2 separate regions of the Homo sapiens genome follow, and region 2 is linked to region 1. Evidence: fine-mapped expression QTL. Tissue or cell type: whole blood. Region 1 holds a variant in brackets; the other region holds the start of a gene. All regions are shown on one strand. Distances are from middle to middle.

What was found. PIP is the estimated chance that this variant, and not a neighbour inherited with it, causes the effect.
Region 2: SH3PXD2B starts here. The variant in region 1 is fine-mapped to the expression of SH3PXD2B in whole blood (INTERVAL, PIP above 0.99).

What each region holds. Positions count from the first base shown.
Region 1 is chr5:172,391,689-172,399,868 of GRCh38, forward strand. SH3PXD2B (SH3 and PX domains 2B) reads right to left here. Exons shown (of 13, transcript NM_001017995.3): 4 at 2,875-2,951. Among named protein-coding and RNA genes, the nearest start is that of SH3PXD2B, 59 kb to the right of the region's middle. RefSeq lists a silencer at 3,884-4,084. The variant CTT/C (reference allele first, on the strand shown) is at 4,928.
Region 2 is chr5:172,450,794-172,458,973 of GRCh38, forward strand. SH3PXD2B (SH3 and PX domains 2B) reads right to left here and starts at 3,732. Exons shown (of 13, transcript NM_001017995.3): 1 at 3,485-3,732. The coding sequence starts at 3,559. RefSeq lists an enhancer at 2,698-3,219.

The DNA.
Region 1 (8,180 bases):
TGGACCTCTGTCTGCCTTGTGATCTGTCTGCCTTGGCACTCCAAAGTGCTGGAATTATAGGCATGAGCCACTGGCCTGGCCATTTTGTTAATGGTACTTTTTGAGATACAGAAGTCTATAAGTCAATTAAATTAAATTCAATTTTTATCAGTTTTTCTTTAAAGGCTCACACTTTTGGAGTCATAGCTAAAAACTCTGCCCAACTCAAGGTCGTGATGAGTTTCTCCTATGTTTTCTTCTAGAAGTTTTACAGTTTTAGCTCTTATATTTAGGATTATGATCCACTTTGAGTTGATTTTCATGCATGGTATGAGATAAGGATCTAACTTCATTTTGAGATAAGGGTCTAACTTCATTTTTTTTTTTTTGCATATGTATAGCTGTTGTGGGTTATAGTGTTTTGCTCTCCACCCCCTATTTATATATTAAAGACCTAACCCCCAAGCCCCTAGAATATGAATATATTTGGAGATGGGATCTTTAAAGAGGTAATTTAAAGTAAAATGAAGTCACTAGGGATGTGCCTTAATCCAATATAACTGTGTCTTTACAGGAACAGGAGATTAGGACATAGAAAGGTACAGAAAAGACCTTGTAAAGACACAGGGAGAAGAGGCATTTCATCTATAAACCAATGAGAGAGGTCAGAAGGCCCTGCTGCCTAGACTTCCAGTCTCCAGAACTGTAGGAAACTAAATGATGTTGTAAGCCAACCAGTTTGTGGTATTTTGCTATGCAGCCCTAGGAAACGAATGCAACAGGTGACTATCTCAACTGTTTGTTAAAAAGACTATCCTTTTCGGCCCAGCATGGTGGCTCATGCCTGTAATCCCAGCACTTTGGGAGGCCGAAGTGGGTGGATCACTTGAGGTCAGGAGTCTGAGACCAGCCTGGCCAACATATAGTGTAACCCCGTCTCTACTAAAAATACAAAAAAAAAAAAAAAATTAGCCAGGCATGGTGGTGGGTGCCTGTAATCCCAGCGACTCAGGAGGCTGAGGCAGGAGAATCCCTTGAACCCAGGAGGCGGAGGTTGTAGTGAGCCGAGATGGCGCCACGGCACTCCAGCCTGGGCAACAGGGCGAGACTCCATCTCAAAAACAAAAACAAAAACAAATAAACAAACAAAAACTATCCTTTTGCCAGTGAATTGTCTTGGCACCTTTGTGGAATATCAGCTGATCAAACATTTTGTAGGATTTTATTTCTGGACTCTCAATGTTGTTCCGCTGATCTACATGCCTATTTTTGTCAGTACCATACTATCCTGATTACTGCACCTTGTAGGCAGTTTTCAAAATGGGTAATATGGCTCATCTAACGTTGTTCTTTTTCAAAAGTGTTTTGACTATTCTGGATCCTTTATATTTCCACATACACTTGAGGATTGGCTTGTCAATTTCTATAAAAAAGCCTATAGAAAAGATTTTGACAGGGATTGTATTGAATATGTAGATTCATTCTGGGAGGAGTTCCATTTTAACAATATTGAGTCTTCCAATCCACAAGTATGGAATATCTCTCCATGCATTTAGATCTTCTTTAATTTTCATTGAAATGTTTTATATAAACCCTGCACTTCTTTTGTTAAATTTATTTCTAAGTATTTTATTCTTTTTGATGCTATTGGGAGTGGGACTGTTTTCTTAATTTCATTTCTGGATTATTTGTTCCTAGGATTTAGAAATACAATTGTTTTCTGTATATTGAGCTTTTATCCTGATTTTACTAAACTCATTGATTTGTCCTAATATTTTTTTGATGGATCTCTTATGATTTTCTGCATAGAGAATCGTGTCATCTGTGAGTCAAGAGTCAATACTCTTTCCTTCCCAATCTGGATGGCTTTTCTTTCTTTTTTGTGTGCTTACACTGGCTAGTCCCCTAGTAAAATGTAGAACAGACATGTAAGGGTAAACATACTTGCTTTGTTCCTGATCTGAGGGGGAGATTGTTCACTGCTCCATTTAAAAAACATTTCTTGCTATTCCTACCCCTCTCCCATCAGAATCGCTAGTGATTTTAACTTGGAGAAACAAATACCAAAGAAAAGCTGCTAAACAATATAAAAACATGCTCCTTTCCTGACTATAGCCTCAAGTCAAATGAAATATAACCAAAAGGCAGGTCTCTTGTTGTTTAGGACGTTCAAGGGACAGGAAGCTGCTGCACCATCAAACAACAGGGATTGGCTAAATAACTTTGGAAGCATGAATGTATAATGGAATACTACGTGGTCATTAAAAGTAGGCTTAAGAGGATTTTTTTTTTTTTGAGACAGAGCCTCACTCTGTTGCCCAGGTGGGAGTGTATTGTGCCATCTCAGCTCACTGCAACCTCCACCTCCCAGGTTCAAGCGATTCTCCTGCCTCGGCCTCCCGAGTAGCTGGGACTACAGGTGTGTCCCACCACACCTGGCTAATTTTTGTATTTTTAGTATAGATGGGGTTTCAACATGTTTGGTCAGGCTGGTCTCGAACTCCTGACTTCAAGTGATCCACCTGCCTCGGCCTCCCAAAATGCTGGGATTATAGGCGTGAGCCACTGTACCCAGTCAAGAGGATGTTTTAATAGTAGGGAAATTCTCACATAATAATTATGGCAAAAGAGAAAGAGCAACAAAATTACACATACAGAATGGTCTCAACATCATTAAGAAATGCACATAAAGAAAAGGTGGAAAGGAAATATGTAAAACCCTTAATAACTAACTGTTGCCTCTAAGTTGAATGATAATGAATGATTTTCCCCCTAATTTCTTTACATTCCTTTGAATTGCACAAATTTTTATTGTTGAGCATCTTGTAGCCAGAAAAAGAAAAGAAAACAGAATACACCTACAGGGAAGACTGCGTGGGCATTTCTCAGCCTTACCTTACAGTATTCATCAATTGGTATCAGGCGTTTGACAGCCACGTCCCGGATGTGGCTTCGTCTGAAGAGAATCTTACCTGCAGAAGATGAGAGCAAAGACAGTGTTGTCAGGGAACAGGGACAAGCTCTCAGCAACCTGAGAGGGTGTGGACATGGCGGTTCCTAGGGTAGGTCTGAGTGGTGCCAAAATTCCTGGCTGCGATCAAGGTACCCCCACTGGACTTCCGTGAGGCTTGGATAAGCCCATGTGAGGTCCCCCTAAACCCTGTTCACAGCTTTAACACAAGGGCTTGGGGGAATGGGACCCACGGAATAAGTTTTGGTGAGATAAGGGAGGCTGGAAGCAACTGTGGAAGGAAGCCGCTCCTACCTGATGAAGAAAGAAGGTTGGACCCGAGCATGTGAGGTCCTGTCCAACTCCAGGATTCTGGCTGGGTGAACAGTACAGTGGACAAACAGACATGCCCTCAGCAATAGTTCAGTCTCCTCCCTTCTCCTCATTCACCCTCTGCCTTTTCCTCATGTTCCCTAAACCCCCGTGCTCTACCATTCTGAGCCCTCCCCTCTGCCTGGACACCTCCCCATGCATCCCCACCACCATCCCTCATAGGGGTTAAGAGTTCCTGGCTCTTTCTGACTGCACACATTATTTATTTTTATAGCACTTCTTCTGTCCTACCAATCATGTGCTCTGCACCAATAGGAACTGACTGCGTCTCAGTCCATTTTGTGACAATAATGTTTGATAAATGTATGAATGTGGCTTCCACCTGCAAAGAGGACAGATCCTTCCAGTTCCTTCCCCAGTTAGTGTTCGTAAGAGAAGGGTTTTGAGTTCTCTTATTTCACCAAATATTAACTGAGAGTCCATGACCTGCTTCACAACATCCGAAACTCTGGGGCATGGGGCTATGAACCACCAATATGACACATGGGTAGAGAATGTGGGTCACAGGAAAACACGGGTATATACATGATGCCACTGAAGATCTCTGGAAATATCCAAGACATTGAAATGTCATGGGCGATGCCTGTTTAAAGCAAATCAGTGGGTTCTCAGAGAGTTTACACAGGATATCCTCTCTTGGGGAGATAGTGGCGAAGCATATGCACTAAGGGTTAAGACCACATGACTCACCATTCTGAATCTACCACACAGTCAGGGGTGGGGGAAATCAGAAATAAGATACAAAGGAGGGCCAAAGACATGGGAGATGGAGATAAGCCTCTACCAAGCTCGTGCAGAGCAACCGGGGGTATCTATGGGTAGGTCAAGGGGAAGGTGTGGGAGGACCAAAGCTGCTCTGGAGAGCAGAGCATGGAGACCTACTAAGAGCTCTCTCTATTTCTGGTCCTAGGAGGTTGGTTAAAAAGAGGAATTTGGGTCAAGAGGCTGGCAAGGTGAAGAGAGATTACTATTGATCTAAGACGGTTTCTGGTGAGATGGCTATCTCCACAGATCAAGCTCGGGCAGGCAGGGATAGGATGGCATAGAAAAGTCTAGTAAGGATTGGGCGTGGTGACTCACGCCTGTAATCCCAGCAGTTTGGGAGGCCGAGGTGGGTGGATCACTTGAGGTCAGGAGTTTGAGACCAACCTGGCCAACATGGCAAAACTCTGTCTCTACTAAAAATACAAAAAAAAAAAAAAAAAAAAAAAAAATCAGCCTGGTGTGGTAGCATGTGCCTGTAGTCCCAGCTACTCAGGAAGCTAAGGCAGGAGAATCACTCGCATCTGGGAGGCAGAGGATGCAGTGATCCAAGATCATACGACAGCACTCCAGCCTGGGTGACAGAATAAGTGAGACTCCGTCTCAAAAAAAAAAAGAGGCTAGTATAGTAAGAATTTTCATATGACAGAACTGGAAGGAATGTTGAAAAACAACCCTACTGACTTTTAAAGATTTGCAATGCAAAGTGGTAAAGGAGATTTGCACCCTAAAAGACCATGTAGCTAATCCAACATTTTAAACAACTGGACAACTTGCTCTGGTGCAAAAGGACACTATTTGGAAACTAGGTAGACAAGGTAAATTTAAAAAAAGAGAGAAAGC[CTT/C]TTTTTTTTTTTTTTTTGCTCATTTTCACCAATTAAAAAAATATCTAGGCTGGGTGCGGTGGCTCACGCCTGTAATCCCCACATTTTGGGAAGTCAAGGCAGGTGGATAACCTGAGGTCAGGAATTTGAGACTAGCCTGGCCAACGTGGTAAAACCCCGTCTCTACTAAAAATACAAAAATTAGCTGGTGGCACATGCCTGTAATCCCAGCTACTCAGGAGACTGAGGCAGGAGAATCGCTTGAACCCAGGAGATGGAGGTTGCAGTGAGCTGAGATCATGCCATTGCACTCCAGCCTGGGTGACAAGAGCAAAACTCTGTCTCAAAAAAAGAAAGAAAAAAATGTAGATGAATACGTATCACAAAGTATCACAAGGGAGATAACCTTTAGGTCTGGCTGCCTGAGAGCCAGGCGGAACAGAGCCATATTTCTCTTCTTTCAAAAGCAAATAGGAGAAATATTGCTGAATTCTTTTTCTCAGCAAGGAACAGCCCTGAGAAAGAGAATGCATTCCTAGGGGGAGGTCTCTGAAATGGCCACTCTGGGAACGTCTGTCTTTTATGGTTGCAGATAAGGGATGAAATAAGCTCCGGTCTCCTGTAGCGCTCCCAGTCCTATTAGGATGAGGAAATTCCCGCCTAATAAATTTTGGTCAGACCGTTGTCTGCTCTCAAACCCTGTCTCCTGATAAGGTGTTATCAATGACAATGCATGCCCGAAACTTCATTAGCAATTTAAATTTTGCCCCGGTCCTGTGATCTTGCCCTGCCTCCATTTGCCTTGTAATATTTTATTACCTTGTGAAGCACATGATCTCTGTGACCCACACCCTATTCGTACACTCCCTCCCCTTTTGAAAATCACTAATAAAACTTGCTGGTTTTGCAGCTTGGGGGGCATCACAGAACCTGCCGACATGTGATGTCTCCCCCGGACACCCAGCTTTAAAATTTCTCTCTTTTGTACTCTTTCCCTTTATTTCTCAGACTGGCCGACACTTAGGGAAATAGAAAAGAACCTACGTGAAATAACATTGAATTATTGGGGGCGGGTTCCCCCGATATCTGGCACCCAACATGGTCTTTCTTTTTTCCTAAGTGCATGTGGGAACCCAATTCCCTTTGGTAGAGATTTACTGGCACAATGGGGGGCTGAAATTAATATTCCACGTAACTCTTATAGTGCTCCCAGTCAGCATATGATGGAAAACATGGGGTTTGTTCCTGGGCTCGGTCTCGGTCCAAAGCATGAAAGGATTACTAAACCCCTCCCAGTTACTGTAAAAGAAAACAGGGCGGGTTTAGGTTATCCTTTTTAGTGGCGGCCGCTGCCACGCCTCCTGATCCTATCCCTTTACAATGGAAATCTGACACACCTGTTTGGATTCAGCAGTGGCCGCTCTCTAAAGAAAAACTGGAGGCTTTAACTCACTTGGTTTCTGAACAGTTACAACTTGGAAATGTGGAACCTTCTCCTTCCCCCTGGAATTCTCCTGTGTTTCTGGTAAAAAAGAAATCAGGCAAGTGGCGGATGGTAACCAATTTAAGGGCTATTAACACTGTAATTAAACCTATGGGGGCCGTTGAAACCGGCATGCCTGCCCATGCTTTAATACCTAAAAATTGGCCTCTCATAGTTATTGATCTTAAAGATTGTTTTTTTCATATTCCTTTACATAAATTGGATTGTGAAAAATTTGCTTTTACTGTACCATCTATCAATAGTCAGGAGCCTGCAGTTCATTATCAATGGAAAGTACTTCCTCAGGGAATGCTAAATAGCCCTACAATCTTCCAGCTTTATGTTGGGCAAGTGCTTTCAACAGTTTGAGCCCAATTTCCCCAGGCCTATATTCTTCATTATATTGATGATATTTTAATTGCTGCCCCCACTGATAAAGAATTAATTGACTGTTATCAAAGTTTGAGCCGCCGTGTTACAGAGGCTGGATTACACATCACTCAGGATAAACTTCAACAGACCACTCCTGTTCAATATTTAGGAATGGTGGTCGATAAACAACATATTCAACCTCAAAAAGTTCAAATTAGGAAAGATTCTTTGAAAACTTTAAATGACTTCCAAAAACTTTTGGGTAACATTAATTATTTAAGACCTACTTTAGGTATTCCAACCTATGTGCTGTCTAACTTGTTTTCTACACCATGGGGAGATTCCAATCTCCGCAGTCCCAGGACTGACCCCTGAGGCTTCACTAGAACTGGAATTCGTAGAGGAAATTCCAGTTATCTAGAGTACAGCCGTTTCAGCCTTTTCAGCTTCTGGTTTTCGCTTCATTACACTCCCTTACTGGACTAATAGTTCAACATAATGATTTAGTGGAGTGGTGTTTTCTTCCTCATTCTGTGTCAAAAATTTGTCTGTTTATCTAGATCAAATGGCCACCTTAATTGGACAGGCTCAGTGTAGAATACTTAAAATTTCCAGATTTGATCTGAATTTAACTGAAGTTCCTTTAAAACAGCTTGAAGTTCAAGCTGCCTTTCAACATTCCATACTATGGCAAATTCACTTGGCTGATTTTATTGGCATTATTGACAATCATTATCCAAAGAACAAATTGTTTGATTTTATAAAAATGACATCTTGGGTGGTCCCTCGATTAACCAAAGATCAGCCCATTCCTGAGGCCGTTACAGTGTTCACTGATGGCTCCAGAAATGTAAATGCTGGTTATGTAGGTCCTACAAACAAGCTTATTTCTACCCCTTATACCTCTGCTCAAAAGGCTGAGTTAATTGCTATAAATACTGCCTTACAGGATTTCCCCAAACCTTTAAATATTGTCTCTTATTCTACTTAACATGGGAAAGAGGATATGCTTGTGTTTCACCAGGAGATCATCAAAAGAAAACCGCAGGGAAAAGACGTCCGCGTCAGAGACTGCCCTCAGACGTGGTGAGATCTGTGCCAACTCCTTAGAAGCCGGCACACCAAATCACAATGGGTCTGATTCAATCCTCCTTGATGGCAATGGAGACCCATCTAACTAATTCCACTTTTCCTGATTGCCTTTCTTTTTCTCCTTACAAACCTAAAAATCTCACCATTTCTATTAGCCTGACAATAACATCCCTCTGTTCTTCTCTTCCTCCTTCAGCACTCAATCTCGCTTACACTGGGTTTTATTTAATTATTCTCCTCCTTATACTTTCTGTCTCACCAGTTTCCTCTCACACTGATTTACCTGCTACACAAAATTATTCTTATTGGGCTTATGTGCCTTTTC
Region 2 (8,180 bases), 59 kb after region 1:
TCTCCCAGGATGTCACCCTCAAAAGCCCCTCTCCATTCATCCCCAAGCCCTCGGGCTCTAGTGCAGGAAAGATGCTGGCAGAGAAAGGCAGGAGCTCCCCAAATCTTCATCTCCCTGCTTCCAACAGAGGGCAGTGGCTCCAGGGAAAGGCTCTCCAAACAATATCATGGTTCATTGTCATCAGCCTCTCAGGATCTCACAGGCACCTGGAGCTTCTGGCCCTGCATTCTCCAGACCTGGCCTGTGGCTCTGCCCCTGGGCCCATGGATGATGTCTCTGCCTGCGGGTGACTGAGGCTGGGGCTGGAGAGGACGCCATTCTGATCATGGAGAAGGCACCATTTCAGAGGGAGCAGGTGGCCCAGCCCTGATGGGCAGCCCTGAACTCCGGGTGCAGTTCTCCAATGACATCTACAGCACCTGTGACCCTGTCCCTCACAGGCAAGTGAGTGATGAGCAGGTAGTGGCCGAGATGGCTGCAAATGGGGAGAGGGGTAGTGGGAAATTAGGGGGCGTAGTGAAGAGGACTCTCAAAAACTGACTTTATAGTCTATGGCGCAGTGGCTGGGGTGGGAATGTGTGTGGTGCTGCCCCCTAGAGGACATGCAGCAATCAATGCCTGGAGGCCTTTTGGGTGTCACAATTGGGAAGGGGGATAACTAGCTGGGTAGAAGCCAGGGAAGCTGCTAAACATCCTGCAATCCACAGGACAGCCCTGAAACAAAGAATGATCCAGCCCCAAATGTCAAAAGTGTTGAGTTTGAGAAACTCTGCCCTTGAGGGATGTAGCAGTATTTACACAGAAGCTAGAGCTCAGAGAGGCAAACCAACCAGTCCGAGGTCACACAGCAGAAAAGTTCAACTCCCCAGCTGATGCTGTCTCTCCAGGGTGGCTTCAGAAAAAGGGATACCAAATGGGAGTCAAAGTCCAGGCCTGCCAATAGCTGCCTTCATGCCCGCTCTTTCCAGATTGTGTGAGGGGTTGGGGTGGAGCTTGGGAACAGCAGCGGTCGCCCACCACAGGGATCTGTTTCCATTGGGTTTGGCCCCCCTGCCATCAAGGCAGTAAATGTTCTCTGTTCCTGTGGATGACTCAGGCTTCAGTTCAGCCCATTGCCCCTCCTCATCTGATGAACCCAGAAGCCTGGGCTAGAAGGGAGAGGGCCTCTTGAATCACATGAGTGACTAAAGCCACATGCAGAAAAACAAGTTCTTGATGAATCCCCCTACCATGTGACTTTGGCATGTTCCCAATCAGTGACAAGATACCTCAGGACAGGCAGGCAGGGAGCTATGCCTTTAGGGCATTTAGGAATGCCCTAAGGCAGCCTGTCATGCGGCTGCTACCTCTAGGAAATGGACACCACCATCCCCATTACACAGATGAAAAAACTGAGGCTGAGGTGACACAGCTACAACCTGGGAGGCCAAGATCTGAATCCCAATCTATGTTTTAACATAGAAACTTGTCTCAGGGGGCCCCCAAAAAGTGGCTGAAAGCTTCAAAAGACGGTTCTCAAAGCGCAAAACCTTCAAAAAACTGGCAAGGATGGAGCTGACACAGCAGAGAATGAAAAGCTTCCAGGTTTTCACTAATGATAAGAGAGATTTCCCAGTTTTTCAGAGGACTTTGCTCAGAGAAACTATAGGGGTACCGGATGTGGGAAGTGGTGTGGTCCTTTTGGGGTCCAGCGGGCCTGGATCTACATCCCTGCTTGGCTCTTGACTGTGACCTTAGGCGTGGGACCTCACTTTGCTGAGCCCTGGTTTCCTCATCTGTCAAATGGGCTTAAGGCCCTCTGCCTGATATGGGCGTGATAGGAGAGGCCAGAAGAGGGCGCGTGGACGATGATGGCCGGGCCTCGGTGGCAGTATCTATTCTCGTTTTTGCCAGCTCACAGACCTGGTGGGAGGTGGCATGGAGAATTCCAGACTTCCTCCAGTTGCCATGTTGGTGAAAACTGTCTTCATGCCAAAGAGGCAAACTCACTTACACGCTAACAGGCTCAAACAAGAAACTAAGATTTGGCAGCATTTGAAAACAGTTAACAAAAAATAAAAAAAGGAAGGAAAAAAAAAAGACAATTTAGCTCAGCTCTGGAATCAAGGGAAACTTCACTCTATATAAAGATGCCACAGGTCCAGGAAATAGCTTCCCACCGCCTGGCTAAGGGCTGAATAACTGGCTGCCCAGCCAATAACAATACAGACTCACACAGCACACCCTTTCTTGTGGAGAGCGCGGAGTGGGTTCCCGGCTATCTCCTTTCAGAATTTCACAGGCTATTCACGGAAGGCATGCAGATCTACTTTGTAAGAATTAGTTCTTAAAAAAAAAAGATCTGAAGACGACTTCCAGGGAGGCCAAGGAGCTTAATTTAGCCAGCCAACGCCCTTTTCTATTCATTGTTCTATACTTCTTTGTTAGGATTTTTTCCCTCCCTCTTACTCTTTTTCCCTTCCTGGTTAACTTCTCTGCAGCCAGGCTCCGCCACTGCCCACTTCTCACCGCCAGAGACACTATAGCCCCCTTCCCTGCTGTAATGAGGCCCTCCCCAAGGCCTCATGTGGGCCCATCACCCCACATCCCCTTTATCTCCACCTAGAACCTGCGAGGTGGTCCCAGGGCCTCCTGAATCTGCAGACGTGTCCCCTAGGTTGCTGCGGAAGCCACTTTCCACCTGCAGGTCACCGTCAGCCCCAGGCACCCCTGCTGGAGGGAGGGAAGCCCGAATGCAGCTCTATGTTCCAGGACCTGCAACCTCTGAGCCTCAGCCTTCCTATCTGCAAAACGACGCTACTGTCCCATTTTCTCAAGTCCTTGCCAGCTCCAAACAAGATTCCCATGTTCCAGAGGGAGATGCCAGGAGAAAACTTTCGTACATTTTAAAACAGAAGTTACTGGAGAGAGGGGGCAGGGGATGTTTTTAACCCTTTAAAGGCGTAGCCACTCAAATGATCCATTCCCAGAGATCTCCTCCATCGCCCAGGCCGGCTCTTGCCAAAGAACGGAGTCAAATTCGGCGAACCCTAGAGGGGCTACCTGTGGCTGGGGACTGCGGGTCTGCGCGCCTCTGGACAAGGAGGGGCAAGGCGGGCGGCCTGAGAACAGGCACTTCTGTCTCTCCCGCTTTCTGTCTCAGACCCCTCACCGGCTGGAGCCAGACTTTTCCACAGATGAGCAGGACGGGAGTTGGGGGGACACGGAGAAGACAGAAAGGGGTAGAGGAGCCGCAGGGAGGCGAGTAGGGGGGCGAGGCGGGAGGAAGGGATGGAGGGGGAGAACGAGGCAAAAGCGGGGAGGGGAGGGGAGGGAGGGAGGAGGAGTCGGGAGGGACCCGGGCAGCGCCGCCGCAGAGCCGAGGGGAGAGCAGGGGAGGAGGGGACGGGAAGCGCTGGAGGCAGAAGTTTTCCAAGCCGGGGGCCCTCGGTCGCCCCCGACGGGGCGCGGGCTCAAGGGGGCGTGGGGGCCGCGCCGCACTCACATAATGCTTGTTGGGCACCCGCCGCTTCTGCACGTCTAGCACCTTCACCTCCACGATGCTGCGCCGCGGCGGCATGGCCGCTCCTCCGCCCGCAGCGGGCCGAGCGCGGGTGCGGGTGGCGCGGGGTGCAGGGAGCGCTGGGGGCGCGCCGCCGCGGGCAGGGAACCTGGAGCTGAGCGCAATCGCAGCCGGGGCCGAGCACGAGCCGCCGCCGCCACCGCCGCCGCCCTTCGCTCGGCGCGCACTCCAGCCGGGCCCAGCCGCCGCCGCCCGCCCCCGGCCCGCCCCCCGCACCGCCCCCCGCACCGCCCCCCGCACCGCCCCCCGCGCCGCCGGCCCGCCCCCCTTAAAGGGCCCGGCCCCGACCCCCGCCCACCGCGCGCGAACCCCGCCGGCCACGTCCGGCCCCCGCCCGGCCTTTGTCCCGGTGCTGAGCCGCCGCGCCGGGGGAGGGGACTGGACTGACCCCGTCGCCCGTTCACTGATTGACGTATCGATTCATTCCAGCACTCTCGCTCCGGCAGCCGCCATCCACCGCCAGTTTGGAGAGCCGGACACCCGGGTTCGAATCCCGGCTTTGCCGCTTTTCCACTCTGTGCCCTCGGCAAGTTGCTTAACCTCTCTGGGTTGGGTCTCTTCGTCTATAATATGAGCCTAGTAGTACAAGCACCATGTTTGTCTTTTTGTGTCTGGCTTATTTCACTCGGCATAATGTCCTCAAGGCTCATCCATGTTGTAGCACGTGTCAGTAGTACCGCCTGCCTGCCGGTGCTGCGCCCGGGATTAAGTGCATGTGAAGCCATTCCGCAGTGCAGTCCATGGTATGAGTGCTGGCGTTCCTAAAGCCACCCCAAGCCCTGGTGATTCAGGAGGAGCAAGAGACCCGTGACCAGGTTCCCCCAGCCTCAGTCTGGGACATGGGGAGTGAGGGAGAGAAAAACTGCAACAAATGCGCATACGTGCAATGTAATTGCCATGGAAGCAACAAAAGGGGATAAAAGGGTGGTGACTATGTGTGAGGGGCAGCTGGGTGCTTGTTAGCAAGGCCATCGATTTCCAGTTGCGGAGCACTTAACTGCTCGCTGGGCCCCGTGGCCCCTGCTTTTCACAAATGCTGTCTTTGCATCCTCAGGCAGACTCTAGGAGGAAAAGGTGTTTTTACAGAGGACGGCCTCCAGACATTTGGACATTTCCAATGAGGCCTGAGGACCCTCTGACTTGGGAACTGTACTTCAGAAGAATGTGCCTTACAGGAATTACATCAGTGAAGGTCCAGAGTCAGGGAGCCGGTGGATGGAGCCCGTCACTGCCTGGCTCTAGGTGGATCTCACACGTTGAAGCTGCCGTGGCTGGGGCAGCTCCTCGTTTCTTCATCTAGTGCCTCCTAGCACTGGCTGGGCACTGAGTCACTTTCAGGAGATGTTGGCTGAATGAATGGATAAATGAATATATAATGCATGGATGGGAGGTTTAGGCTCCTGGCCAGTGTTTTCACAGCCAGTAAGTGGGGGCTCTTTTCAACAAACCGTACGACTCTTCTCCATGCCACGACAGAGCTACTTCCCACCCCGGTCCAGGATCAGCCTTTGGAAAAGGGTGGGCTTATCCAGGGTAGGACGGCTCTCAGCCTCGGCCAGGCCACGTGGATGATTTGGGCTGATTCACTTTGGATCCGCCCCTCCATTTGCTCCTCTGACTTCCTTGCCAGACTTTACCATCCTGCTCCAGCCCCAGAGGCTGGCCTGTGTGGATTTCACTGACAGCTCTCTGTCCTGGTCTTCCTGTTTGGCTTGGCCAGTGGAAGGGCCTGGCAGGAGATTGAGGGCAAGAGGAGAGAGGGAGGTCTGGGTATTTAATCCCTAAGCCCCTCCTCCCCGATTGTTTTTACCAAAGGTGCCCTTTCTCACATGGTCTCTCTCAGGGTTCCTGAAGCCACTTTTCTGCTCAGGACAGTGACAGTCTTGCTGTTGCAAGCCCTGGGTACTACGCCATCCTCGGTGCTTCCTTAGCCCCGCCCACACCCGTATACATTGACCCTTTACTAAACTGTCTTCATGGACCCAGCTTGAGGGTGGCATCTGTTCGGTGCCAGGACCCTCACTCATGTAATTCCTGTAAGGCACATTCTTCTGAAGTACAGTCCCAAGCCAGAGGGTCCTGAGGCCTCATTGGAAATGTCCAAAGAAGTGAAGGTCTGCTTTTCCGTCCCTGCCACATCGTGCATTGCCTTATTAGGAGCCAAGCCTTCCTAAGAAGGCAGAAGCTAGAGGCCCTCTCTGAATCAGCCAGCTTCCTGGGTTTTTCCGGAGAGGCAGAGAGACCTGCCCCCAGCCACACCATGGGTGGCAGAGGTGGGTCCTGCTGGCTGTGTCCGTCTCCTCTGTCTGGGGAAGACAAAGGTCCCCCCACAACCACCAGTAGCAGAAGATGCTATCCCTGCATCTTTACGTATCTTTCCTTTGTTTTACTTTTTTATTGTAGTAAAAAATACATAACATAAAATTTAACATTTCAACCATGTTTAAAGCATACAGTTGAGTGGCATTAAGTACACTCACATTGTTGTGCAACTGTCACCACCATCCCTCTCCAGAACTTTCTCATCTTCCTAAACTGGAGCTCTGTCCCTATTAAACACTGAGTCCCCCCCCACTGCCCCCCAACCTCCTCCAGGCCTTGGCAACCATTGTTCTACTTTCCATCTCTATGAGTTTGACTATGCTAGGTACTTCATATGAGTGGAAACACACAATGTTTGTCTTTTTGTGTCTGGCTTATTTCACTCGGCATAATGTCCTCAAAGCTCATCCATGTTGTAGCATGTGTCAGAATTTCCTTTTTATGGCTGAATAATATTCCATTATATGTATATAGCACTTTTTCTTTATCCATTCATCTGTCAACAGTCACTTGGGTTGTTTTCATCTTTTGGCTATTCTGAATAATGCTGCTGTGAACATTGGTATAAAAATATCTGTTCAAGTCCCTGGTTTCAATTCTTTTGTGCATATACCAAGAAATGGAATTGCTGGATCATGTGATACTTCTATGTTTAATTTTTTTTTGAGGAGCCCCTAAACTGTCTTCCACAGGGGCTGTGGCATTTCGCATTCCCTCAGCAATGCACAAAGGTTCCAATTTCTCTACATCCTTGCCAACACTTGTTATTATCTGTTTTGTTTGTTTGTTTTGTTTTGTTTTGTTTTGTTTGAGAAAGAGTCTTGCTCTGTCTCCCAGGCTGGAGTGCAGTGACGCAATCTCAGCTCACTGTAACCCCTGCCTCCTGGGTTCAAGCAGTTCTCCTGTCTCAGCCTCCCGAGTAGCTGGGACTATAGGCGCCCGCCATGCCTGGCTAATTTTTGTATTTTTAGTAGAGATGGGGTTTCACCCTATTGGTCAGGCTGGTCTCAAACTCCTGACCTCAGGTGATCCACCCCCCTCAACCTCCCAAAGTGCTGGGATTACAGGCATGAGCCACCGCCCCCGGCCTTGTTTTGTTTTTTAAGAGACAGGGTCTCATCCTGTCACCCAGGCTGGAGTGCAGTGATTTTGATCATGGCTTACTGCAGCCTTGATCTCCTGGGCTCAAGGGATCCTCTGCCTCCGCCTCCCTGGTAGCTGGGACTATAGGCACCCACCAGCACATCTGGCTATTTTTAAAATTTTCCTTTTGTAGAGACAGAATCTCACTATGTTGACCAGTCTGGTTTTGGACTTCTGGCCTCAAGTGATCTTCCTGCATTGGCCTCCCAAAGTGCTGGGATTACAGGCATGAGCCACTGTGTCTGGCCTGTTTTTATTTCTTTATTCGTTCATTTGTTTTTGATAATAACCATTCTAATGGATGTGAAATGGAATCTCATTGTGGTTTCGATTTGCATTCCTCTAATGATGAGTGATGTTCAGCATCTTTTCATGTGCTTGTTGGCCATTTGTTTATCTTCTTTGGAGAAGTGTCTATTCAAGTCCTTTGTGCATTTTAAAATTGTGTTATTGGTTTTTTTCTTCTTACCTTTCTATATCACCCATTTACCTCCTAGACAACTTGGGCTTTTCTGAGTGTCCACCATAGTTTTTGGAGAACTGAATTGTGGGCTGGTGATGCAGTTTAGGCTGGCTGTTCAGACTGGAAAGATCCATTTAGGCTCTGCTTGGGAGAACTGCAGATTATCTGCTGATAAAAATCTCAACCCAGATGGTCACTACAATTCACTGGAACTGGACTAGTTCCTTGTCACAAACACAAAACACTTCTGCAAATTCGAGTTCATCAGGGAGCCCAAACCTAAGGGAGAACTCGAATGGAAGAGAAATCCCACTTGGAATTCAAATAGGATTCCAAGTGGGATTTCTCTTCCATTCGAGTTCTCCCTTAGGTTTGGACAAGGATTCCTTTTAGACTCTATATAGTCTAAAAAGAGGAGGGACCCTTCGTTCCAGAAATCCCTGCCCCTTTCTTAGAAAACTCGTGAATAATCCACCCCTTGTTTAGCACGTGATCAAGAAATAACCATAAATATACTTAGACTCGAGCATCCCATGCCAGGGCTCTGCCTATGGGGTAGCCATTCTTTATTCCTTTACTATCTTAATCAACTTGCTTTCACTTTATTCTATGGACTTGCCCCAAATTATTTCTTGCATGAGGTCCAAGAACCCTCTCTTGAGGTTTTAATCGAGACCTTTTCCGGTAACA